Homo sapiens: one gene and its partners. The protein of the gene in region 7 interacts with the protein of the main gene of each other region in a biochemical or structural test. Each region holds a gene or a part of one and is shown on either strand. Other genes may lie near its edges. The genes, in order: AKAP13, GTF2B, MED1, RANBP9, POU2F1, PTGES3 and THRA.

Evidence for each region.
Region 1: the proteins of THRA (region 7) and AKAP13 form a complex in vitro, tested with the Homo sapiens proteins (one study listed by BioGRID and IntAct).
Region 2: the proteins of THRA (region 7) and GTF2B form a complex in vitro, tested with the Homo sapiens proteins (one study listed by BioGRID).
Region 3: the proteins of THRA (region 7) and MED1 form a complex in vitro, tested with the Homo sapiens proteins (6 studies listed by BioGRID, with this or other methods).
Region 4: the proteins of THRA (region 7) and RANBP9 form a complex in vitro, tested with the Homo sapiens proteins (one study listed by BioGRID).
Region 5: the proteins of THRA (region 7) and POU2F1 form a complex in vitro, tested with the Homo sapiens proteins (one study listed by BioGRID).
Region 6: the proteins of THRA (region 7) and PTGES3 form a complex in vitro, tested with the Homo sapiens proteins (one study listed by BioGRID).

The regions. Positions count from the first base shown.
Region 1 is NC_000015.10:85,744,103-85,747,602, forward strand, and holds part of AKAP13 (A-kinase anchor protein 13), read left to right. Parts: intron 1-525; coding exon 526-575; 3' UTR 576-3,500. UniProt on the Homo sapiens protein: Scaffold protein that plays an important role in assembling signaling complexes downstream of several types of G protein-coupled receptors.
Region 2 is NC_000001.11:88,853,568-88,857,067, forward strand, and holds part of GTF2B (transcription initiation factor IIB), read right to left. Parts: intron 1-3,500. UniProt on the Homo sapiens protein: General transcription factor that plays a role in transcription initiation by RNA polymerase II (Pol II). Involved in the pre-initiation complex (PIC) formation and Pol II recruitment at promoter DNA.
Region 3 is NC_000017.11:39,413,264-39,416,763, forward strand, and holds part of MED1 (mediator of RNA polymerase II transcription subunit 1), read right to left. Parts: intron 2,077-3,500; coding exon 1,981-2,076; intron 1,869-1,980; coding exon 1,763-1,868; intron 1-1,762. UniProt on the Homo sapiens protein: Component of the Mediator complex, a coactivator involved in the regulated transcription of nearly all RNA polymerase II-dependent genes.
Region 4 is NC_000006.12:13,701,836-13,705,335, forward strand, and holds part of RANBP9 (ran-binding protein 9), read right to left. Parts: intron 1-3,500. UniProt on the Homo sapiens protein: May act as scaffolding protein, and as adapter protein to couple membrane receptors to intracellular signaling pathways. Acts as a mediator of cell spreading and actin cytoskeleton rearrangement.
Region 5 is NC_000001.11:167,227,386-167,230,885, forward strand, and holds part of POU2F1 (POU domain, class 2, transcription factor 1), read left to right. Parts: intron 1-3,500. UniProt on the Homo sapiens protein: Transcription factor that binds to the octamer motif (5'-ATTTGCAT-3') and activates the promoters of the genes for some small nuclear RNAs (snRNA) and of genes such as those for histone H2B and immunoglobulins.
Region 6 is NC_000012.12:56,664,285-56,667,784, forward strand, and holds part of PTGES3 (prostaglandin E synthase 3), read right to left. Parts: intron 1,983-3,500; coding exon 1,920-1,982; coding exon of another isoform or gene 1,872-1,919; exon of another isoform or gene 523-1,871; intron 517-522; coding exon 492-516; intron 215-491; coding exon 195-214; 3' UTR 1-194. UniProt on the Homo sapiens protein: Cytosolic prostaglandin synthase that catalyzes the oxidoreduction of prostaglandin endoperoxide H2 (PGH2) to prostaglandin E2 (PGE2).
Region 7 is NC_000017.11:40,061,597-40,065,764, forward strand, and holds the start of THRA (thyroid hormone receptor alpha), read left to right. Parts: upstream 1-1,368; 5' UTR 1,369-1,496; intron 1,497-4,168.

The DNA of each region.
Region 1 (3,500 bases), on a different chromosome or scaffold from region 7:
ATTCAAGTCCTCCTTGCCTTTCTGGGCCTAGAGTAGTCATTGGTAACAGCTAGCATTTGGTGATTTAACCCTCAAATGACTGTATGAAGTTGGCACTGCTAACCCCAAGAGAAGTGAGGAAACTGAGGCTCACAGAGGCTAACTAATGTGCCAGCGGCCACAGAGCCTGCGGCTGAATTCCACTAAATGCCTCCCTGTTCATGTACCACTTTTTCCCCTGAATCCTTCTCTTTAGGATTGATCTCTCCTTTCTGTGTGGGAGGTTAAAGAAAAAGTACATTTTCCTGGCCTCTTCATAAATTCTAGTGATTATTTAAAAGTTAAAGGGAGCATTAGGCAGTGAAGGATATCACTTAAGAACCTTATTAACCAAATTTGTTCAGAAACCCCGGTGCGCAGAAGAGTTAATTGCCCATAAGCCCCAGTCGCCTGTTTGCATTACAGAAGACTTTGGGATGGGGAGGAAGTTCAATGAAAGGAGCAGTTTTTCTGAATTTTTTTCATTCTTGGTTTTCACATTTCCAGATGGTCCCGCGTCAGAAGTATCAGCAGAGGGTGAAGAGATCTTCTGCTGACCCTCTTCCTCTCTGCTGAGGCAGCTGCCTCCTGATCCTGGCCAGCCCACCTCTCCTGCTGTCCCCGCGTGCACAAGTCTCTTACACTGGACGCCCACTGCTCCTCAGCGTCCAGTCCTCCTGGGCGGCCCCAGGTCCTGGACAATAAGCAACAGATGATATTGAGTGTCGGGTGGGGAAGGAGGCCCAGACTCTGCTTCGGCCATGATTTGTGACTGCCCAGGACTCTCAGGTTGGGCTGGCCCTACTCAGGATTACACTGAAAGTAATGGCCTCGTAAGTACAGGTGATGGTTTTGGACACGTCAGGAATTCCTAAAGGCTGAAAGAGTGTATCCAAGTAAGGTCTGAACCTCCGAATGCCTTTTATTTGGGGGAACACAAAACCAAACAGCAGATGTTTTGGACTTGATCTGTGTACGTACATGGGGACCTGTCTGCATATACACACGGGGAATGCCAGAAGAAGGCCCAGTCTGCACCAGGCGTCTGGTCAACTTAGCACAAGGGCAGTGCCTGGACGGACCCGGAGCCCCCGCATATCAGCAGTTCACCCAGTACTCCTCAGAGACTGGTTTCCCTCTAAACCCATCCCGGGCACATACCACCCGTGTTTTGCATGTATTTCTCATTTCATTTTAGGGATGACAAACATTTGTGAAACCAGTGAGAGAAGGCTTGATGTGTATAAAAGACGTGATGTGCACCACCTCGATCTCGGTGTTTCAGGCACTAAAGCAACAAAACAACCCATAGTATCTCATTCTGTCATCAGATCCAGAAGAAATATCCTGGTTTTCCAGCATGTTTACCCACATGTTTTGGCCATGGATAAAGTGAAGAGGCCTACTCACCATTATCCCTGCAGCGTGACACCTTTTGATTGTCACTGACCACTCAGAAGGGGCCACGGCCTCCTGGCTGTGTTCCTGAGCCCCCGTCGTGCCTCTCCCAGACAGCAGCTGTCTGGCCCTTGCTGGGTGAGGGCACACCACTGCCAGGGGTCAGCCTCGCACCCAGGCCAGGCAGAAGCTGTGCTCTGAAGCTAGGACAGCTGGCTGAGAAGTGGGTTCAGGCGAAGGGTGAAGCCATGTGTAGCAGTTCCTGCCAGTGCAGATCTGGAGAGGAGCTGGCCCGGAAGGCGTGGTTGTGAAAGCGCCCTTCTTATGTTAGGAGGCCTTGGCAAAATTGGATTTCTTCAAAAATACATGTAAAGGTCTGTTGTTGAATTGTACTCTGCCCCTGGAAGCAGATACAGATGGCTGCCTGCTGCTCGGCTTTGCTTTTGCTTTTCCCACCGTGTTTTCATCTTTGTTCACTTGAGGCTTTCCCCAGCTGGTGTGTGCAGGACAGTTCATGGTAATGTTGCCCTCTGAGGCCCCGTACACCAGAAGGGAGGCCCTGGAAAATTTTGTGCTTCCAACGTGGCCTTCAATTCTTGCTTTTTTGCCCCTCGGAAGCATGGGGCTTTTGAGCACACTTAAAAAAAGAAAAATCTGTAACTTGGTGCTTATTGATGAATTGCAAGCTGGCCTTGCAGATGGAGATATTTATCTTTCAGTTTATTTGAAAGAGGTCTGGTTTAAAATTTGTAGCCTACATTTGTTTTATTTATTGTATTTGTGTGTTTGTGTTTGTTTTTTTTTAAGGGTGAGCCAGGTCTAGCCCAACAGTCTAAACTATCCAGTCAATACCGAGTGAAGTGGCAGCCAGCACTGTTCACTCTGTGTCTTTTGAAGTGCCTTGAAGGCCCAGATGAAATTTTAAAGGGAGGGGGTCCATGTCCTTCCCTCCCCCACCCCGCCTCATTCTTTAATCAAAGGATGTCTTCTCCCTTGTTTGAGAATGAAGAAACTCGCCACCTCTGACCTACCTTTGCCTTTTTCTGTCATGGAGAATACTCACCCTTCAGAAACAGACCAAAGGCCAAAACCTGCTGATTTTTCTATTGAAAATATGTCCCCTTGCAAAGACCCTAAACAAAAAGTTAAGTTTCTTTCTTTCACCTATTTGTACAACTCCAAGTTACAGCTGAATCTGTCGTGACTTTCCTGAGATCTACCCGGGGCTTGGCTGTCTGTTCTGGGCACTGGCTCCGAGTTCCCCTCCTGGGATTTGCAGGAGGGCAGTACTGAACCTGCATTCTTCTCCTTGTAAATGTAGGCCGGGTGCCCCTGTTCTCCGGGTTTGGAACAATACGAGGTTGGTGCTGATGGGATTTACTTGCGTACGTGCTCTTCACAAAAACACCGTGGATGCTGAAGTTAGAGCACGTCGCCACAGAGCTTGACATCAATGTTAGAGGGTCTCTTACTCCCCGCCCAGCTGTGATGTTTCATCTGCTTTGGTTGTTTTGGTGGTCTTTTTTAAAAATAGAGATTTCACATCTGCCCAGACCCCACTCAAAACGATTTGGTCAGGTTCTGGTTGGACAAGTTTAAAATCAAAGTAGTGCCCGGAATTCCCTCAAACCACCCAACTTCATCCAGGAATACAGTCTGCAGTGCAGCAACAGAACCGCTTACCAAGAACTGTGCTTACATACCTTTGTCATCTCTCTTCCCCCCTTGGAAGTTGTCCTCAGGGGGATTTGTTCCTGTCCTGGGGATTTACCTGGGATGGTGGCTGCCTGTGCTTTTGCTCATGGCCTTGACAGTGCTCTAGTTGCTGGATCTAATGGCCTGTCTTGGTTTCTATCACATGAGAAGGGGTTGTTTTTTTGGGGTGACTCGGACTGAATTCCCCATACTGTTTCCACGCCGGGACACCATGTTCTCCATCAAGCTAAAGAAATCACGTGCCTGAAACTGTGCTTAAGTTTTGGGGGAAAGATGGAGTTCCTATCCAGAGCCCCCAGATTTCCAGAATCGAGTGAGCTTCCTGGAAGGAGACTGCGTCTTCTCTCAATTCCAGTCATCTCAGTCGT
Region 2 (3,500 bases), on a different chromosome or scaffold from region 7:
GCCGAGGCGGGTGGATCACCAGGTCAGGAGATCGAGACCATCCTGGCCAACATGGTGAAACCCCATCTCTACTAAAAATACAAAAAATTAGCCAGGCGTGGTGGCATGCGCCTGTAGTCCCAGCTACTCAGGAGGCTGAGGCAGGAGAATCGCTTGAACCCAGGAGGAGGAGGTTGCAGTGAGCCGAGATCGCACCACTGCACTCCAGCCTGGCGAGAGAGCAAGATTCCATCTCTAAATAAATTAATAAATGATGTTTAAAAATCCATTTTAATAAAGCATTCATAATACTTAACCAAATACTGTCTCAAAAAAAAAGTGGGAGCTAAAGTCAGTAACAAGCAACAATAAAAATGATTACTAGTACTTACTACCTTACAGGGTTGTCAATGTTTTAAAGGGTTTAACTAACATAAAATATATGAATAGTGTTCAGGTCTTAGTATTAGGAGTGTTATCATCTTATACTGGGTATTGTATTTACAACTGACTCCTCCTTTTTCTTTATAAATCTTTCTGAGGATCACAAAAGTACTCCACAAATATGTTCTTGTAAAGAAATTCACTTTATATTTCTGTGTTTGAAAGCTCCCATGCAAAATCTCCCCTAGCTAACTTCTGTTAAGGGGTCCTTATTAAAAACAAAATGTGATACTATAAATATTGTTCTACAATCTTTTTTTCTACTTAATACATCAGAGATCAAACAGCTACTTATTATAGCATACGGAGATGTTTTTCACTGATACAAGCACATACTTAAATATTTTGAGCTCAAACGAACATTGTACAGAATCCTAACAGATCCACTTTTACCCTTTAAAGTCGCTGTCCCTTTTTTCCTTTCAAAGTCATTAAAAGAAATACTAAAGGACTGCCACTACAATGTTTGGTTAAGTATTATGAATGCTTTATTAAAATGGATTTTTAAGCATCATTTATTTATTTATTTAGAGATGGAATCTTGCTCTGTCACCCAGGCTGGAGTGCAATGGCAAGATCTCGGCTCACTACAACCTCTGCCTCCCCGGTTCAAGCAATTCTCCTGCCTCAGCCTCCTGAGTAGCTGAGGCACCTGCCACCATGCCCAGCTAATTTTTGTATTTTTAGCAGAGGCAGGGTTTCACCATGCTGCCCAGGCTGGTCTCAAACTCCTCACCTAAGGTGATCCACCTGCCTCAGCCTCCCAAAATGCTGGGATTACAGTCATGAGCCACCACGCCTGGCCTAAACACCTTTTAATACAAATTCATTTTACTACCTTTTCAGTTGATTCAAATCAGTGAGGTTTTAGTGATTTTCACTGTGAATGCCTGCCATCATTGTACAATTAGCTAATTTTAAATTTCCGTATCTCACACTGCATTACATTATTCTACATCTAAATACCAATAAATGCCAACTATTTGAATGTCAACTGCCTGCTGTGCAGGGAAGAGAAAGACCTTACATTTGAAGAAGACTTTACATATAAAGCCAAAAAGCAGAAAGCAACAAGATTAATGTTTTCATGTTGTTCATTAGAATAAACTTTACAACTAGGAATGTACCTCAAGGACAAACTGCCTAGCTGCAACTTCTCAATTTTACTAAAAGACTCAAAATTTCCTTAAAACGTGAGTGAAGGCCAAAGGGAATGGATAATGGCTCCTTCAAATAACTAATGATTGGCTTTCTTTCTCTAATTATTCCTATCATTTATTACTTTTTTCAACATATAGCCTAAGCTGAAGGCTGTTGTGAATAAAGTATTACAAAGTTATTGAGGCCAGTAATTCACTTTCTGTTTTTGTTTTTTTTTTTTTTTTTTGAGACAGTCCTGTCTCCCAGACTGGAGTACAGTGGTGCAATCTAGGCTCACCGCAACCTCTGCCTCCCAAGTTCAAGAGATTCTTGTCTCTTAGCCTCCCGAGTAGCTGGGACTACAGGTGTGCACCACCATGCTGGGCTGATTTTTGTATTTTTAGTAGAGATGGGGTTTTGCCATGTTGGCCAGGCTGGTCTTGAACTGCTGGCCTCAAGCAATCCACTCACCTTGGCCTCCCAAAGTGCTGGGATTACACAGGTGAGCCACCGCGACCTGCCACCAACTTTTCTTTTTTTTGAAAAAGAGCCTCACTCCATCAACCCAGGCTGGAGGGCAGTGGCATGATCTCAGCTCACTACAACCTCTGCCTCCTAGGTTCAAGTGATTCTCCTACTTCAGCCTCCCTACTAAATGGGATTCAGATATGTGCCACCACACCCGACTAATTTTTTTGTGTTTTTAGTAGAGACAGGGTTTTGCCATGTTGGCCAGGAGGCTGGTCACCGCACCTAGTTTATGAATTTCTTTACATGCATTTGTTCATGAATAACTTCTGTAATCCTCAAAGACTTAGAAAGGAGTAGTCACTTCTAACTTTAAAAGGGAGTTAGTGGGCCATGTGTGGTGGCTTGTGCCTATAATCCCAGCACACTGGGAGGTGGAGGCAGGCGAATCACATGAGGCCAGGAGTTCGAGACAAGCCTGCCCAACATGGTGAAACCCCATCTCTACTAAAAATACAAATATTAGCTGGGCGTGGTGGCACGTGGCTGTAGTCCCAGTTACTCAGGAAGCTGAGGCATGAGAATAGCTTGTCCGGGAGGTGGAGGTTGCAGTAAGCTGAGATTGTGCCACTGTACCTCCAGCCTGCGCAACAGAGGGAGACTGTTTCAAAAACAAAAAAAAAAAAAAAAAACAAAAAAAAAAAAGGAAAAGAAATTCACTTAATACTTCTGGTGAAAGTTTTCCTACAACACTAAATTTAAACATAGCTTTAGAAGGCTGAATTACTTACATCTACTTATTTCAGAATTTGTATTAAGAAACTGTAAAATACTGTGCAAAATGGGAAAAAACCAACCTTCACAGAATGTTAAAGGCTGATGGCCAACACGTATTTTACAGTGTGTCTATCTGTAGAATCCCATGCCAAGCAGTGAGAAACAAAGCATGGCCTCCCTGACCCCTAAGATTTAAAAAGGTAAGTTTGGAAAGGAAAAGAGTATTCAAAATGATCAGGAGGAATATATTCAGGGAGAAAAAAGAACTTGTAAGAATAAAAGATGTACAAACTAAAATAATTCAAATGGGAAAAAAATTAGGTTTGTTCACAGGGTTATGTCTCTGAACATTTTTTTTATGAGCTGCTTAAAAAGCAAAACATATTTTCTTAACATTTTGACGTTGAGGAATGATGTCTTAAACGTGGGTTTTTTTTTTTTTTTGAGATGGAGTCTTGCTCTGTTGCCCAGGCTGGAGTGCAATGGCACAATCTCAGCTTGCTGTAACCTCCACCTCCCAGGTTCAAGCAATTCTCCTGCCTCAGCCTCCTGAATAGCTGGGATTACAAGCCCCACCACCACACCCAGCTAATTTTTGTATTTTTAGTAGAGATGGGGTTTCACCATGTTGATCAGGCTGGTCTCGAACTCCTGACCTTAGGTGATCCTCCCGCCTCGGCCTTCCAAAGTGC
Region 3 (3,500 bases), 650 kb from region 7:
GTTAGTTTGTTTGTTTTGAGACAGAATCTCACTCTATCACCCAGGCTAAAGAACAGTGGCGCAATCTTGGCTCACCGCAACCTCCGATTCCCAGGTTCAAGTGATTCTCCTGCCTCAGCCTCTCAAGTAGCTAGAATGACAGACGGATACCACCATGCTCGGTTAATTTTCGTATTTTTATAGAGATGACATCTCAACATGTTGGCCAGGCTGGTCTCGAACTCCTGACCTCAAGTAATCTGCCCGCCTTGGCCTCCCAAAGTGCTGGATTACAGGCATGCACTGCCACGCCCAGCCTAACATTTAAGTTGTGAAATCTGCTCAGGCAGACACAGTGGCTCACACCTGCAGTACCAGCTACTCAGGAGGTCTAGGTGGAAGGATAACCTGAACCTCGGAGGTCAACACTTCAGTGAGCCGTCATCACACCACTGCACTCCAGCCTGGGTAACAGAGTGAGACTCTTGTCTCAAAATAAAAAAATAAAAGAATAAAAAGATAAAAATGTCACATCTATGAAGAATTGGCACACAGGATAGGTAAGAAAAATATCTGTATTTTATTATGGCTTTCTCCTGCCTTAAAGTACCATAATTCCAGGCCTGAAGTTACCTACTTTACTTCCCATTACTCTCATAGTAATATCATTAAAAAAAAAAAAAAAAAAAAAAAAACAAAGCTGGCTGTGTGCAGTGGCTCACGCCTGTAATCCCAGAACTTTGGGAGGCCAAGGCAGGCAGATCACCTGAGGTCAGGAGTTCGAGACCAGCCTGGCCAACATGGTGAAACCCCGTCTCTACTAAAAATACAAAAATGAGTCAGGTGTGGTAGCACATGCCTGTAATCCTAGCTACTCAGGAGGGTGAGGCAGGAGAATCACTTGAACCCGGGAGGCAGAGGTTGCAGTGAGCCAAGATTGTACCACTGTACAATCTGGGCATCAGAGCAAGACTCCATCTCAAAAAAAAAAAACAAAGCTTAGATTACTTTGAATCCGAAAGCAGAGAAGGGTGAAATCAAAGCAATAACTAAATTGCTCCTTTATTTGAAATTCATGCTAATTCTGAAAACAACATTTTTTTTTTTTTTTGAGACAGAGTCTCACTCTGTTGCCCAGGCTGGAGTACAGTGGCATGATCTCGGCTCACTGCAAGCTCCACCTCCCGGGATCATGCCATTCTCCTGCCTCAGCCTCCCTAGTAGCTGGGACTACAGGCGCCCGCCACCATGCCGGGCTAATTTTTTGTATTTTTAATAGAGACGGGGTTTCACTGTGTTAGCCAGGATGGTCTCAATCTCCTGACCTCGTGATCCACCCGCCTTCACCTCCCAAAGTGCTGGGATTACAGGCGTGAGCCACCAGGCCCGGCCTTTTTTTTTTTTTTTTTTTTTTTTTTTTTTTTTTTTTTTTACAACAAAAACAAAAACACGGAGTCTTGCTCTGTCGTCAGGCTGGAGTGCAATGGCGCAATCTTGGCTCACTGCAACCTCCACCTCCCAGGTTCAAGTTATTCTTCTGCATCAGCCTCCCGAGTAGCTGGTACTACATGTGCCCGCCATCGCGCCTGACTAATTTTTGTATTTTTAGTAGAGATGGGGGTTCACCATGTTAGCCAGAATGGTCTCAATCTTCTGACCTCGTGATCCGCCTGCCTCGGCCTCCCAAAGTGTGGGGATTACAGGCGTGAGCCACCGCGCCCTACTCAACAACATTCTTTATACATCTCTAAATGGGACTCAGATGAAAAAGGGCCAAGGCTACCTTTGAACAACTTTGGCAATGAAGTCATCTGTGCAGATCAGTGCATCCGACAGCCCTTTGTAGAGTTTACAGCTCACATGTGTTGAGTCCTGCACATCCATTACCACTGAAAGACAAAATACATAGGAAATTGTTTTAGATTTAGCTTCTGACTTTTCCAAAAAAGACATAGGGACCAAACCGCTCCATGAGAGGTGTTAGCCACCCACACAACTCACCACACACCAGGGAGTCATTCACAGGGTGCTGAAAAGATACGCTGAAACGAGACTCTGAGAGAGGACACACTTCAAATTGGAGAAGCCCAGGAGAATCTAAAAGGCAAAGAGAAAGATCATAAAACAACCAAATATAAGACTTCACACAGGCTGGGCACGGTGGCTCACGCCTGTAATCCCAGCAGTTTGGGAGGCCAAGGCAGGTGGATTACCTGAGGTCAGGAGTTCAAGACCAGCCTGGCCAACATGGCGAAACCCCAACTCCACTAAAAAATAAAAAAAAGAGGCCGGATGCAGTGGCTCAGGCCTGTAATCCCAGAACTTTGAGAGGCTGAGGTGGGCTCATCACCTGAGGTCAGGAGTTCGAGACAAGCCTGACCAACATGGACAAACCCCATCTCTACTAAAAATACAAAATACAAAATTAGTCGGGCGTGGTGGCACATGCCTGTAATCCCAGCTACTCGGGAGGCTGAGGCAGGAGAATCACTTGAACCTAGGAGGCGGAGGTTGTAGTGAGCTGAGATCGTGCCACTGCACTCCAGCCTGGGCAAGAGTAAGACTCCATCTCAAAAAAAAAAAAAAAAAAAAAAAAAATTAGCCGGGTGTGGTGGCGCACACCTGTAATCCTAGCTACTCAGAGGGCTGAGACAGGAGAATCGTTTCAACCTGGGAGGCAAGGGTTGCAGTGAGCCGAGATCATGTCACTGAACCCCAGCCTGGGAAACAGAGCAACACTCTGTCTCAAAAAAAAAAAAAAAAGACTTCACACAAATAACATTCCTTAAATGTACAGACTGAAATTCTCTCTCCCTCCTTGGAAACTAAATCGCACACTTTTTTCACATACAAAACCTACTATATGTCATCCACAGATGACAGAAGGAATCAGATTCCAAGGAACCTGCCAGTTTGTTATAAATTTCTCCAGAACAAAAGTAGCTAGACTTTCAATTTTCCAAGATGAAGAAACTTAATCCCTAAAATGTAAAAGTGAATTCTGAAAATAAAAGTGGCCGAGTGTCTCATTCTACTTGATAAGCAGATATCCAGAACCACTGCCATAAACTCTGCTTTCTATCAAGTGTTTGCAGCTGTTAGATGTGCAGCCCATAGTTTGGCAAGCAGAGATATAGAGGCTATAATCTAAAATAATGTATTTATTCCACATATATCTAGCCATCATCATATGTTCTTATGCCAGATGTGCTAGCAGCCTAGACACAAGGATCATATACTTTCTTTGTAAAAAGCATGCCTCTCTATAGGATTAGCTCCATAACTGCCTTATGAAAACTCATTTTTAAATGCCCTAAAGCTATCTGGAGACTTCTTAAGGCATTTTAACACATGAAACAGAAGTGCCACAACTTTGAACATATATGCTCTATGTTATTACTCCAACTACTAAAAATTTCTCATTTCTAAAGCAATTTTTATTTCCATGAGAAGAATCTCCTGGCCCAGCACAGTGGCTCATGCCTGTAATCCCAACACTTTGGGACACTGAGGTGGGAGGA
Region 4 (3,500 bases), on a different chromosome or scaffold from region 7:
CTCTTTTATTACAAAGTGATCTATGTCCACGGCAGTCTTCACCTCTTCCACTATTATCAAAGAACAGTCTGTACTCTCCTCTCCAAGACCAACCATTCTGGACTCTGGAACCAGTTTCCTCTCTAGAAGCCTCTCTGTCAGCCTCTCAAGCTTGTATTTCATTATCTTCCTCTCTAATCTCTCCTTCCCCTCAATCTGTAAAGGGACAATGTCCCCAAAATGTACACTTTTCACAAATTCTATGCCTCCGTGCTACATATAAATCATTGTCAGTAATGTACCAGAGTTGGTGGTATATAATTTTTTACCTTAAAAGTAATAACAAGGCTGGGCGCAGTGGCTCATGCCTGTAATCCCAGCACTTTGGGAGGCCAAGGTGGGTGGATCACTTGAGGTCAGGAGTTCGAGACCAGCCTGGCCAACATGGTGAAATCCCATCTCTACTAAAAACATAAAACTTAGCCAGGCATGGTGGCGGGTGTGTGTAATCTCAGCTATTCGGGAGGCTGAGGGAGGAGAATTGCTTAAACCTGGGATCCGGCCTGACAAAGCGAGACTCTGTTCAAGAAAAAATAGTAATAATAACCAGGTAGGCTAATCAATTTTATTTGTTAAAATGTTAAATTTTGTATACATTTCCTGGAACACCATACCTTGGACTAATATAATATAGTATTTTCATTTAATTTATGTCGCTTCAGTTTTACCTATACAACCAAATTAAAACAAGATTGACTAAGAAATGACACAGTGGTCTCTAACACAATACTTTCCAAAGGAATTTTTAAGGATAATTTTGGTTATGTAGGATTTTCATCTTCTATGCTGACATTAGAAGCTAAACACCAGGTAAAACGTAACTCCACTATCAGCCGTTAAAAATTAGAAGAAAAAAAAAATCCTACCTTAACCTCCATCCTCCTCTAGGAAATGCCTCATCTCTTCCTTCATCTATATTTCTCAAGGATAATCTCTATTCACTATCCTCTCTACTTGGTCCTTTCATTTACTCTTTCAACCCACTGAAATCTGGTTTTTGCCCCATCACTCAATTCAAACTGCTCTCCCTAAAGTCACAATGATCTAATTTCCAAACGTAGTGGAAAACTATCTGTGCCTATCCTACTAAACCTATCTGTTGCAACAGACACTAAATATCACTTCCTCATTTCTAGGGAAGGTGGGGAGGCTGTTTGAGACAGTGTCTCATTCTGTTGCCCAGGCTAAAATGCAGTGGCATGATCACCGCTGGCTACAGCCTCAACTTCCTGGGTTCAAGCAGTCCTCCCACCTCGACTTCCCCAAGTTTTGGGATTACAGGTGTGAGCCACTGCACCCTCCCGTGCTCAGCTTCTGTGACACCAATCTCCTTGATGTCTGGGGACCTACCATTTCTTTTGTGCTCCCTCTAGTCTTTCAATGTTGGTGTTCTTCAGGGTCCCCATCTTTGGCCCACTGCTTTTTCTCACTCTATTCTCCCTCTCTCTTTCAAATACTCTGAGTTTCAACTACCACCTACAAGTGACTCCTAAATCAGTCACGACCTAGACCTCTCTCCCAAGCTTCAGATCAATTATGGTTAACTGCCAACCCTTCCTAGGAGAAACTGCCTCACACATTGCCCCTACCGAAAGAAGTGAGACCCAGACTATCCTTGTACCAGCAGGGTATTTTGTATTTTATAATTACCACCATTCCTACAGCTGATTCAACACAGGTTAGCACCTGACTTGAAGGCCACCAATTCACAACATAGTCTGTATTGAAAAGCTCTGCCCAACTAAGAATCATAGCAATTAGCCAGGCCAATCTGTTAAGTCTCTCAGGAATTTGACATAGGAAGGAAAGGATAAGCCAGTCAGTAGGGAAAAAGAAATAAAACAACCAGAAACTAGTGATTGGAGCTGAGTCATTTTAATAGAATAGAATTAAGTCATGACTATTAAGACCAGTTAGAGTCCCCTTAACTCCAAAAGACCTGTTCCTGTTCTTTCTGTAAGGCTTGTTTCTTTGGCTTCTTCTGGTTTCCATGAAGTCAGATCACAGGGCTGAGATTCCCATTTTTACTTATCTCCAACTATACTGTAATACAGTCTCCTTCACAATCATTATTTTATTCATGGTTCACTGCAAGAGCCTAACAGCTAAAGACCCAAACATCATCCTAACAGAGTTGGAAACCCAAACATTTTCTTTGATTTCTCTCACTATCATTCCTCATATCCTCTCAGTATTACTTTTAAATATCTCACAAATATATCTGCCTTTCTCTGGCCTTACCACTGACCCAGCTGAGGTCAATTCTAACATGGTCTACTGCAATAGTCTTCTAAATGAATTTACTATTCCCACTCTTGTAACCTCTTGAATCTATCTTCCAATCAGCTGCGTAATCTGACAAAAATGAAGATATGAGCCAGTCACTTCCCATTTAAAATCCTTTGATGATTCTCCATCTCCTACAGAATAAGATCTAAACTCAACAAAATATTCCATAGGGCTCCTAACTGGGCCAGGTACAGTGGCTCCTGCCTGTAATCCTAGCACTTTGGGAGGCTAAGGCAGGCAGATGGCTTGAGCTCAGGAATTCGAGACCAGCCTGGGCAACATGGCAAAACCCCCTTCTCTACAAAAAAATACAAAAAATTAGCTGGGAATGGTGGCACGTGCCTGTAGTTGCAGCTATTCAGGATGCTGAGGTGGGAGGATCACTTGAGCCCAGGAGGCAGAGGTTGCAGTGAGCCTAGATCGCACCACTGCATTCTAGCCTGGACAATGGAGTCAGACCCTGCCTCAAAAGAGAAAAAAAAAAAAGCCTCCTAATTGATCTTTTCCCAGATGCTCCTTGTCACATACTCTAAATGCCAACCCAAAATTGCTTGTAAAACCAGACACATAAAGTAATTCTCTATGTTTTTGCTTTTCCTTCATTTGCAACACCTAGCCCCTCCCTTTCTCCTATATCCTACTCATCTTTTAAGACTGACCACTAGCCTCGACTCCTCCAAGAAGCTATCCCTGATACCTACACTTCCTTCATTCTTTCCAATGTCAGCCTGGGTTATACGCTCCTCCTATTTTCCACAGTACTCTCTATAATATTTCCCTTACTACTCTATTTTATGTCCTCTGAGCTCTCTGAATTCAATGACAGTATCTTCTCCACCTCTGAGTGTCCAGAACCTAGCACAAAGTAAACATTCACTAAAAGCTCATTAAATAAATGAAGAAATGAACAGTGAAAAACACATATAAATTGTCTAGTCTAGCAGAATATATATCATTAGGCTGGGTGCAGTGGTTCACGCCTATAATCCCAGCACTTTGAGAAGCCAAGGCAGGCGGATCACTTGAGGTCAGGAGTTCCAGACCAGCCTGGCCAACATGGCAAAACCCCATCGCTACTAAATATACAAAAATTAGCCAGGCGTGGTGGCAGGCGCTTGTAATCCCGGCTACTTGGGAGGCTGAGGCTGGAAAGTCACTTGAATCCAGGAGAT
Region 5 (3,500 bases), on a different chromosome or scaffold from region 7:
AGATATAAACAGGAATGGCTGGAAAATGAACAATATGCTGTGTGTTAAACGACTCATTTGTGCTTAAACATATGATTACCTTAATGGAGTTGCACTGATACCTTAAAGGGAATATATTTTTATATGGAAAAGTGACTTAGGTGTTTTCTTGTTTTAGTACACTTATTTTAGTGGTCTGCTTAATGAAAAATACAGCCTTTTTTGGCTGATTCATACTGCAGCAAGCAATATTATAATTAATGTTTTAAAGTAGTTACCATCCTAGTCTATAAAAGGTATCTGCTATGTACCTGGTCCTATGCCTGTAGTCTTTGGGAATAACAAGGAAATATGACTGCTGCGGAGGAGTTGGTATGTTTACTTAAGCAGGAAAAATTGAAAAACAGTGTATATAATTACATATTAAAATATGTAACAGATAATGAAGATTGGAGAATAGATCAGAGTGTGTCCAAGTTTGAAAGAGCCAGAGCATCCTAGAATATATTATAGCTGGAAGGTAATTTAGATATAATCTTTGCTAAAGGTTTTGCTTCACAGATGAGGAAATATTTTCACAATGGTTTAGTGACTTGCTCACAGTCACTTAACTATTCAGTAACAGATAAGAACACAAGACTTCTAACTTTCTCCCACCTCCCAGTCTCTCCTCCTGCCCCATTGCTGTCAGTCAGAGAAGGCTTTATGTAGAAGGCGAGACTTTTAAACCGAGCTTTAAAGGGCAAAAAGAATTTAGAGGAATGGGAATACAGAGAAGGCCATTGAAGGGGAGATTGTGTTCAACATTGTGATGTATAGGTAAAGAATGAGGAAGCATTTGTTCTATCTGCAGGAAAGCTGTTGGAGGATTTTGAAATAGGGACTGATGTGATAAAAATGGTGTGTTAGGAGTAATGTGGTGTGCAGGATGGTTTGAAATAGGAAGGGAGAGATTAGATCCATAGAAACCAGTGTATAGAGGTATTTGGTTTATTAACTAATTACTGTAGGTGCTACTAGAGATACAAACATAATTTAAAAATTACTTGACCTCAAGAGACTTCCAGTCTAATTTATGAAATAGATAAGTCGTGATAAAGGTGTTGAGGATATTGTCCAATTACATTACATGGAATAAGGACGTTTGGGAGAAATTCTTACCTGGCCTTTACAGTAGAAACTATTTGTTTTTAGTCTTATGGACACTGAATTGTCTAATTGACTTAGTTTCCTTTTCAAATCAAACTACAGTTTGATTTGGTCAAATTTAGGTCAGATTATTAACCTGAGAAGCACATGCATAGGCAATTACGTTTGCATTTCTTAGCCTGATTAGTAGATCAATTTTTTGTCCATGCATTTGTTTTGTATTTCTTGTATTGCTTCCATCTTTAAACTCTTTTTATCTTGTTTTATGTGGGCCACCTTACATCCTTTCTGGAGCAAGGCAGGTATAAATAATATTACCATAACCATGGCACAGTGATAATGTCTGTATTTTTATAGTACTTTAAAATTTATAGCCACATTCTCATTTTCATTACCTCAGTTAGTCCTTTCAGGCAAGCGTTACTATACCCATTTTATAGTCGAGTAAAATAAAACTTAGATTAAGTGACTTTCTCAAGGTCCTGTGTTTTTATAAGCATTAAGTGTGGGTAATAGCAAGACTTCCAGCTTAGTTGTTATTTAGGCTGTGTATTAAGGCACTTTGGGGCTCTATTGTGGAGAGCTCTGAATCCTTTGTGTTGGTGTAAGAGTTTGGATTTTATTTGCTAGGCAGTAGGAAGTCACTGAATTTTTTTTTTTTAATTTTTTTTTGTTATGGACAGTGCCATGATCAGAGCCCTTAAAGTTTAGCAGCTAATTAGATGCAAAGAGATTATCAAGGTTTTGAGTTTAGGTTATCCAGAAAAGAGCATTACCATAAGCAGATGTAGGGATGTTGGGAAAAGGAGCCATTTGGGGAGTAAGTCAGTGAATTCACTTTGACATGTCATTTGAGACATGTTTGGGTGGGTCTTATTGGGTTGTAGATTCCTTGTGAAAATTGAAAATTTTTTAGTGAATTAAATGTTTGATAAACATTAATACTAGGGTTGAAATTTATGCTCATGCCACTGTGCGTGTGGACTGAGTATTGAATCTGAACGTTGTAAATTCTAGATATCTCATTTTGGCTTTGGCACTGTCTTCTAAGGTTATTTCCTTCAACAATACGATGGTGATAATACCAGTGTTAGAGGGATGCTGTGGGGAGTATCAAATTGATAGCAGAAGCATTTTTAAAGTAACTCTGTAATAGTTTTTCTTACATGAGCACAGGAGTAAAATCAGGAATTTTATTACTTGTGCTGCTGTAGAGAAGCAGAAGCTTTAGCAGCCGATGGATTCTGTGGGGCACCTGACTGTAGGTTGTTCATTTTTTGGTGCAGCCAGCATCTTAGGAGGAATGGACACTCCTAATACTCTTCTGAAAACTTTATACAGTGGAGGTGTTGCATTGTAGCAAATACAACTTACCTTGATTTCAGGGCATTCTGTTATCTAGCCCCTACCCTTGCCTATGCATTATTATCTTTACTACTTCCTTAAATAGCATGACTCAACAATTCCATCAAGGAAGTTCCCTTATTGTCCATTTCTACCACAAATACAGCATATTATCAGATTTTAATTTTTAAAGAAATTTCCCTAAAATTTGAAGATCTATCTTGGGAGGATGGCTATAATTTATCCTGAGACTTACCTGAGCCTTTCTCCCATTACCATCCTTGCAACACCAATCCCAGTTTGAGACACATGACCTGAATGTGTACCCAGTGTTTTGGTCAAGCCAGTGTGTTTGGGACGTTGTGTGAGAACCTTTACTCACACTTTTTCCTCCATTGGAAGGCCATGGTGTATGGTATGGTAGAGTGAAAAAAGGTACTGGGGGGTTCAGAGACCTGGCTTCTCTGTCACTAATTAGCTTAGTAACTTTAGGACAAGTTACTTCACCATGGATTTTTTTTTTAATTGCATTTGTAAAATAAGGGATTTCAAACTTTTAAAAGCCTTTGGTGTTCTTTTTTAAAGGCAAAAGTGGAGCTGTTCTGATTAAAATTGGATATTGGAGCAAGAAAAGCATTTTCCTCCTCCTTTCCACAGTAGCTTTTGAGGCACTTTCACAGGGTCCTTAGGACTTCTGCTGGTCATGACTTGAAAACTTTTGTCCTTATTTATCTTAAGGGACCTGTCTGTCCATTTCTTTATCTCCACAAATAGCCATCTGTCAAATCTGAGCTCCTGTCATACTTTCTCTGAAATTAGCACTTAATTTGTGTTCAGTTACCCAATTCAGCACTTCATTATACACAGTCCTATTTTCTTCTCTAATTGATTATGTAAGTAAATCTTGTCCTAAGAGCCTTGAGTGCAGGAACATACTGGTAGGGACAGAGTAGGCCTAGACATTTAACAAATAATGAATGCTTGGTTGATGGACTTAGTGGTTCTCAATCTTTGTCACCATGGGGTGA
Region 6 (3,500 bases), on a different chromosome or scaffold from region 7:
AAATTGCCCCATACAATGGTACATATCAACCCTTAGTGAAGCCTTTTAAAAAACAAACAGGTTGAAAAATGGGTTAAAGTAGGCAAATACAGCATATCTGCCTTTAGAGCTATCAACTCAGGAATTCTCTCAATTATGAAATCTTGCAGAGAAGTTATTTTTCTTTCTCAAAATCCAGGTGATGACAATATTCCTTACTCCAGATCTGGCATTTCTGAAAGAATTTTTAAAAATATTAGTATATAGTACAAGTGAATAATCTACCAATTTTACTGTCTTAAAGGAAAAGCAACCAAAAATCGAAATACATAGTTGCCCAATGAATTAATAGGTTGTCTTGCTATCAAGTTATTCACATTTCTGCTTTGGTTATTTATTCAAGGTCATAAAGAAAAAATTACTTTACTTCCAAAGAAGTTAACATCTCTATTTTGAGTTTGTTTTTTGATGCAAAGTATCACTGTATAAACATACTTTTTATATACACTTACTTTCATCATCACTGTCTTGTGAATCCTGAAAGAGGGAAAATAAAGTTACCGAGCTGATCAAATATTCGTTTGCTAACTGAACAGTTTACCTAAAAAAGTTCAAGTGCTATATTTTTGACTAAAGTAGCACAGGTAGGTAGTCATATCAAGCCTAGAAATTTAGTCATTGGACTTGACTAGGTTTACCTAAGGTGAATGGATGTACAGCAGAGGATTTATCTACCTATAAAAAATGATGTGTGCCTTTTGGTGACAATTTAGCCCACCCGTTGAATCCATTCCTAAATTAACCTATCTCGGCATTCAAAGAGAAAACATGGATCAATATGAAGAAAAATGGACTGATAGAAGACAGTGAACTCTAATCCTAGCTGTTGAGTGAATATTAAGTGTTTTTCTAAATAGCATTAAATAACTTTCTGGGAGATGTTAACAGGATGCTGGGGTTGGAAAGATGTTGAGAAAAGTAGTTTAGTGTATCTTCCTCTTACAGATTTCCAATGTCCATCTTTTTTTTTTTTTTTTTTTTGGGTGGGGGGAGATGGAGTCTTGCTCTGTCACCCAGGCTACAGTGCAGTGGCGAGATCCGGCTCACTGCAACCTCTGCCTCCCGGGTTCAAGCGATTCTCCTGCCTCAGCCTCCCAAGTAGCTGGGATTACAGGCACCCGCCACCATGCCCGGCTAATTTTTGTATTTTTAGTAGAGATGGGGTTTCGCCATCTTGGCCAGGCTGGCCTGAAACTCTTGACCGCATGATCCACCCATCTCCGCCTCCCAATGTCCATCTGTTTTATCGGTCTCTGACCAATCCTGACATAAAACCTATTTAACTTACTTTCTTAGTCAAAATCATACCTATAAACTGACTCTCTTCTTTCTTTTTGAGATGGAGCCTCGCTCTGCTGCCCACACTGGAGTGCAATGGTGTGATCTTGGCTCACTGCAACCTCCGCCTCCCAGGTTCAAGCGATTCTCCCACCTCAGCTCACCAGTAGCTGGGATTACAGGCACCTGCCATCATGTCTGGCTAAGTTTTTAAGACAGGGTTTCACCATGTTGGCCAGGCTGGTCTCGAACTCCTGACCTCACGTACTCTGCCCACCTGGCCTGCTGGGATAACAGACATGAGCCACCTCGCCCGGCCTAAACTGACTGTTATAATTGAGTACGGTATTAATATATAATGTCTCTATACAATGATTCTTTGGAAATCTAATCCATTTAGGAATGGTCTACGGTACAACCAGTTCCCTAATAGATACCCCCATTCGTCAAAAATGGGCACATTTTAAAAATTGCTTTTCCCTTTTCTTTTTTTTTAGAAAATAAGAAGTAATTGTGAATCTATATAAAACCATTTGTAAATATGTTGTTTCTTACTATTTAATAGTATGAAAGTAAACAGAAAAAAGAATTTTTAGACTTACATCATCTGCTCCATCTACTTCTGGTAAATCTACATCCTCATCACCACCCATGTTGTTCATCATCTATTTGAAGTGTAAAAATTAGTTTTAAAAATGATGTTAAGTTAGGCCCTAATTATTAATGCTGTATGCTTCAGAATAAACCTTAAGTCTGCCACAGATATCAAAAAATGCAAAATGCAAATATAAGCATCTTTCCCTTCTGGAAAAGGAAGATTATAGGTAATTATACAAAATCCTAAAAACCCATATGGAAATTAAAACTAAATTTTCCCTAAAGAAAAGCAAAGCTATTCATGCAACAGGTTTGACAAACATTAAAAATTCTACTTGAGTAGTGGTTACCTCTGGTGGTTAAGGAAAAGAATGGGATTCATTTGTAGTTGCACAGCTATCTATCTTAAGTTAGGTGGAACATGTATTAAGGTATTCTTTTTTTTTTGAGACAGAGTCTAGCTTTGTCGTCCAAGCTGGAGTATGGTGGCGTGATCTCAGCTCACTGCAACCTCCGCCTCTGGGTTCACGCAATTCTCATGCCTCGGCCTCCAGGGTAGCTGGGATTACAGGCGCGTACCACCACACCCAACTAATTTTTTGTATTTTGGTACACACGGGGTTTCACCATGTTGCCCAGGCTGGTCTCGAATTCCTGGGCTGTAGTGATCCACCCACCTTGGCCTCCCAAAGTGCTGGGATTACAGGCGTGAACCACCATGCCAAGCCTTTTTTATTTTGAGATGGAGTCTTGCTCTGTTGCCCAGGTTGGAGTGCAGCAGCACAATCTCGGCTCACTGCAACTTCCGCTTCCCGGGTTCAAGGGAGTCTCCTGCCTCAGCTTCCTGAGTAGCTGGGATTACAGGCAGATGCCACCACGCCCAGTTAGTTTTTGTATCTTTGGTAGAGACAGGGTTTTACCATATTGGCCAGGCTGGTCTTGAACTCCTGGCCTCAAGTGATCCCCTTGCCTCGGCCTCCCAAAGTGCTGGGATTACAGGAGCAAGCCACTGTGCCAGGCCTGGTATTCTCATCATGGTTTTAGATATTGTGAAGAACCAAGAAATGATTTAAACTTAAACTATTATCAGATGATGAGAAACTTATTTTCTCAAGTTTAAACCATTTTTGTAATGTTTAAATTTTAGAAAAATAAAATCACATATGCATGGAAAAAAAATCAAACTTCAAAAATACATGATTACCCAGATTTTAGAATGGGAAAGGACCTTAAAAAGATAGTCAAACATACAATGGAATGTGTTCAGCCTAAAAGTATCATTCAGCCTTAAAGAAAAAAATCTGCCTTATGTGACAAAACACAATGAAGAATCTGAAGCACGTCATGCTATGTGAAATAAGCCAGTCACAGGACAAATACTGCATGATTCCACTTATATGAGATACCTAAGATTATGTAAGATACCTAAGATAGTCAGACACACAAAAATAGAGAGTAGAATGGTAGATGCCAGGAGCTGGGGGGAAGGAAAATGCAGAGTTGCTACTGTTAAATAGGTATCAAATTCCAATTACACAAAATGCATAGTTCCAGAGACCTACTACTGTACAGCATTATGCCTATAG
Region 7 (4,168 bases):
ACTAAGACATGAGCAAGGGCAGCCCAACTTGGGTAAGCTGTGGCTCAGAATCCCACACTCGCCAAGTGACTCTGCCCAGTATAAACTGGGCGATTAGCCGAGCAGCTCCCCCTAACACACACACACTTACACACACACACACTCACACACACACCCCTCCCCAAGAGCAGACTATGTAGCCAGGGCCCCACCCTGAGAGCCGTGGGAAGGCTGTGGCCCCCGCTGGTAAAACTGGGCTAATGACAGCAGGGGAACCGGCGGGGCCAGGGGGGTGCTGGGGTAATTAGGGCTCGGCCTGGCGCTAGGAGATCCTGAGATGAAAGGTGCTCTGGCGTCACTGGGTTGGTTTTATGTCCATGAATGCAGGTGTGTGGTGTGTGTATGTGTGTGCTGGGGGTGGGGCTGGCATGGTGGAGACCTCTCCTTTGGGTTGGGTTAGGGGGTCCATTTGTATGCAGCCCACCGTCTTCCTTAGATTGACTCTGGTACCATTTGGATTTTTGTGGGAGCAAACATGGGGGGAAATACCACCACCCGGGAGCTAGGAATTGAGGGGGTATGGCAGATCTTGTCCCCTCCCCGAGCTCAGGAGAGGGAGCAGATTGTTGGGGGAAATGGCTGGTGACAGAGAATAGAAAGAGCCTATATGGAGAAGGGTGACGTTGGAAAAGGGAGGCAGTGGATCGGTATTGATGTTAGAAATGAGAGGGGAGGGAGGTAACAGGGAATGAACCCCCACAAGGATGAAAAACGTAAGATGATTGAAGTTAAAAGGACATCAGGGGTCACCTGCCCAGCCCTCGCAGCTGAAGCTTGAGGAAGCTCTGCCCCCGACAGCAGTGGCGATTTGTCAAGGTCACACAGTGAGTTACCGGCGGAGAAGGGACCCGAACTCCCAAACAAACTACACCTGCAAGCGTTTGGTGTTTAGACTTTCTCCCCGATGTATAAGGTGCAGGCTGCTCGTCGATACTTCCTCCTCCACCCTCACGGTGCACACCCGAAAACCCCCCAATTCTCCCGGCAAGCAAAGGCTATTTTTTAATGACATCTTTTCCAAAATATGTCACCAAGTACCCACTCCTGCGGGAGCCGCCCGGGCTGGGGAGGGCGAGTCCGAGCGGGGCGGGGCAGAGGCGGCCGAGGGGCGGCCGGACCTCTGGCGGGGGTCCCGGGGCGCGGCAGGGGGCGGGGGGCGGGGGCGGGCGGCGGCGAGGCGGCCTGCAGGGAGCAGCCGCGAGCCGGCCGGGCGCGCCGAGCCCGAGCCCCAGCCGGAGCGGGGCGGGGGAGGGAGGAGCCAGAGCGGCCGCCGCCTCTGCCGGAGGAGCCGCGGGGCCGCCACACTCGCCCCCCGCCCCCCCCGCGCTCACTCGCACTCACACCCGGGCGCAGGAGGCGGGCGGCCCGGGCCCCACCGGCCCCCCATGGACGCCCCCAGCACGGGGCGCTGAGACCCCCGCGTCGCTGCCCAGCCCGGTCCGGCGCGCCACGCCGAGGTAAGGAGGAGGGAGCGAGGGGGCATTAATATGCAAATGCCTTGCGATTGATTATGCAAAGCCGCGGGGCTCCGTGGCCAGCTCCCAGGCGGGCTAGGGGCGCCCAGGGGGTGCCTGCTGCCAGCCTCAGCCTTTCCTGGCGCCCCAGTGACCCTGTCACGAGCCCGGGAGCTTGCAACTGACGCCCTGGGGAAGGGAGGTGTTGCTAGGAGGTCGCTGGGCCCCGGGGTTCGCAGGCGGAGATGGCGTCCGAGCCTCCCCCTGGAGGGCCCGCCCGGCCTCTGTCCGGCCAGTCTGCTGCGCATTCCCGGGCCGGGCCCCGTTGCCGGCCGCCGGAGCTCCCCCGCCCGCCGCGCCGCGGTTTGTTTACGGTGCGCCGGAGGCCTGCCCCCCCAGCCCCCACCCCTAGCCTCTGAGGCCCGAGTGGCCTTTGCAAAGCTGCCTCCAGCTGCGGAGGGCAGTATGAGTGCGGTGGCGCGGGTGGGCTTGCACGGGTCCGGGGAGAGGGAAGTTCCCCCGCCTCACCCGCCTCCCGGTTGAGCATGGCTGTCTGGTTGCAACACTGCTAATTGCAAAAACGCGGTTGTTGGGGGGGAATGTGTGTGTGGAAGGGGTGTACTTGGTGGTGCCTAGATGATTAGGAGAGTTGCTGGCTGGGGAGGAGAGGGAGAAATGGACCTGTGTGTGTGTACCCCACCTTGTTTCCCTCCCCTTGCAACGTGTCTCTGGTGCCCCTTCTCCATCTGGGGCCCTCCCTTGTCCAGCGTGAAAGAAAGGCCTGGGGGGATGACAGGGGCAATTGAAAGAACCACCGTTCCAGGGGTGGGGGTGGGGGACACAGAAGGAAAGCCAGTGAGGTGGGAGCCTGCCCCTCAGTGCTGGCTTTGGCTCCAGGAGGGGGAGGGGATGAAGGGGGCTGTTGTCCAAAATGAGGGGGGAAGCAAAAGTGACACGCAGACACAGAGATATGTCCACACAGACAGCCACATGCACATCCAGGGACACCCAGGCAGACTCAAGGACAGGAGCTACTGGACACACCCACATGGGGACAAGGGAAGAGACAGGCTGCTGCTGCACCGTGGAGCTCTGAGGGGTGGGATATACCCATGGGAGACCAAGAGCATGGGGACCGATCCATGCACATACCCACGCACAGGGTCACACGTAGATGCTGTCACACACTGGGGCAAGGAGGAGTTGCTGTCACCCACACATAAAAAGTCACTGTCACATGCATGCATGCACACAGAGCAATTGCACACAGCAGCACAATTACAAAAGACCCTGTCACTCACAGGCACACACGTGCTCGCATGAGCCCAGTCACACAGACATCATTGCTTGCCGTGACAGTCGCTGTCACTCAGTCAGATGCAAACACAGTTACACACCAACACATGTATACACAACTTAGCAACAAGTATTTTCCTGGACTCTTTACTGTGGAGCTCTGAGGTTCTGTAGGCAACAAAACCCTTGCTCCCAAGAATATTAAATTTGGCTGTATGAAAAAGTGTTCCTGCGTAATGGTGTAAAGCATGCATTCCCAATGACATGTTCTTGGTCTCTATCGCTTGAGATACCACCCTACTAGACAGTGAGCTCTTGGAGACCTGGGAGAATCACTTAAAGAGCTCTGGATCCCACGCAGAGCCTAGCACAAGGGCTGCTCTGTAAATACTTGTTAGTTGATTGACTGTGGAACCTGCAGACACAGGTGCACTCATTTGCACATGGTCCCCTGAACTCAGGTGCAGAATGAGTTCACAAGGCCCAGGTCCCCACAGTTGCAGGTCCACACCAACAGTCGTGTCCACACAACCCCAGATACACACAACTGCAGCCTGTGCAGCCGAGCACACACTTAGATGCACACAATCACAAATTTTTCCCCTTCAGCTTCCTCCTCCCCTTTTTCCTCTAGGCTCAGCCACTGTGCGGGAATGGGCTGTTTTTTTTTTCTTTCTTTCTTTTAGAGGGACAGAGAAACAAGAGCAAAGACAGTGGGTTCAGGGGGGTTCCAGAGGGCCGAGTCATGGGCTCAAAGCAGTGTCCAGTGACTTCTAGAAGCTAGGATTCTCTTGACTGTTGGGGAAGGGGAGAGCTGCTCTCCTCCCTACCCTAAAAGCTCAGGGGTGTCTAACTGCCCCTGCTCTGAGTCATTTGCCTGGGTCTTTCCTGGGAACAGTCAGTCACTTCCAGCTGAGTTCCTGCGCCCCACCTTGAGTCTGGCCCTTTTTCCCACCTGTACCCTCCTGTCCAAACTTGGAAGCTTTCCTTAAGAGGCCATCGGCTGGCGAGTGTCTGTGTGAGTGATATGTACTTTTGACTTGGAATTTCTCTCTAACTCTGTCTCTCTGTTGCTCTGTCTTGCAGTGTCTGATTCTCCCTCTCTCTCTCCTTGTTTCTCTGCCAGTCTGTAACTCTCTCTCACCCTGTTGCTACCCCCGATCTACCCCTGTCCTTGTCTCAGAGCTGGGGACTGGCAGCAATGTTCTTCATACTTTTCCAGTTGTTAATACCCAAGCTCCGCCCCTCTGCCCCCCCTGCGCAGCCTCTGGGGTCAGCTTGAGGTTGGGGTGGGGGGCGGGGGGCTCAGCTGGCTGCTCAGGACTTCCTGCACTTCCTTAGTGCCGCAGCTGTGGCCAGCAAGTTTTAGGGGCTGGGAA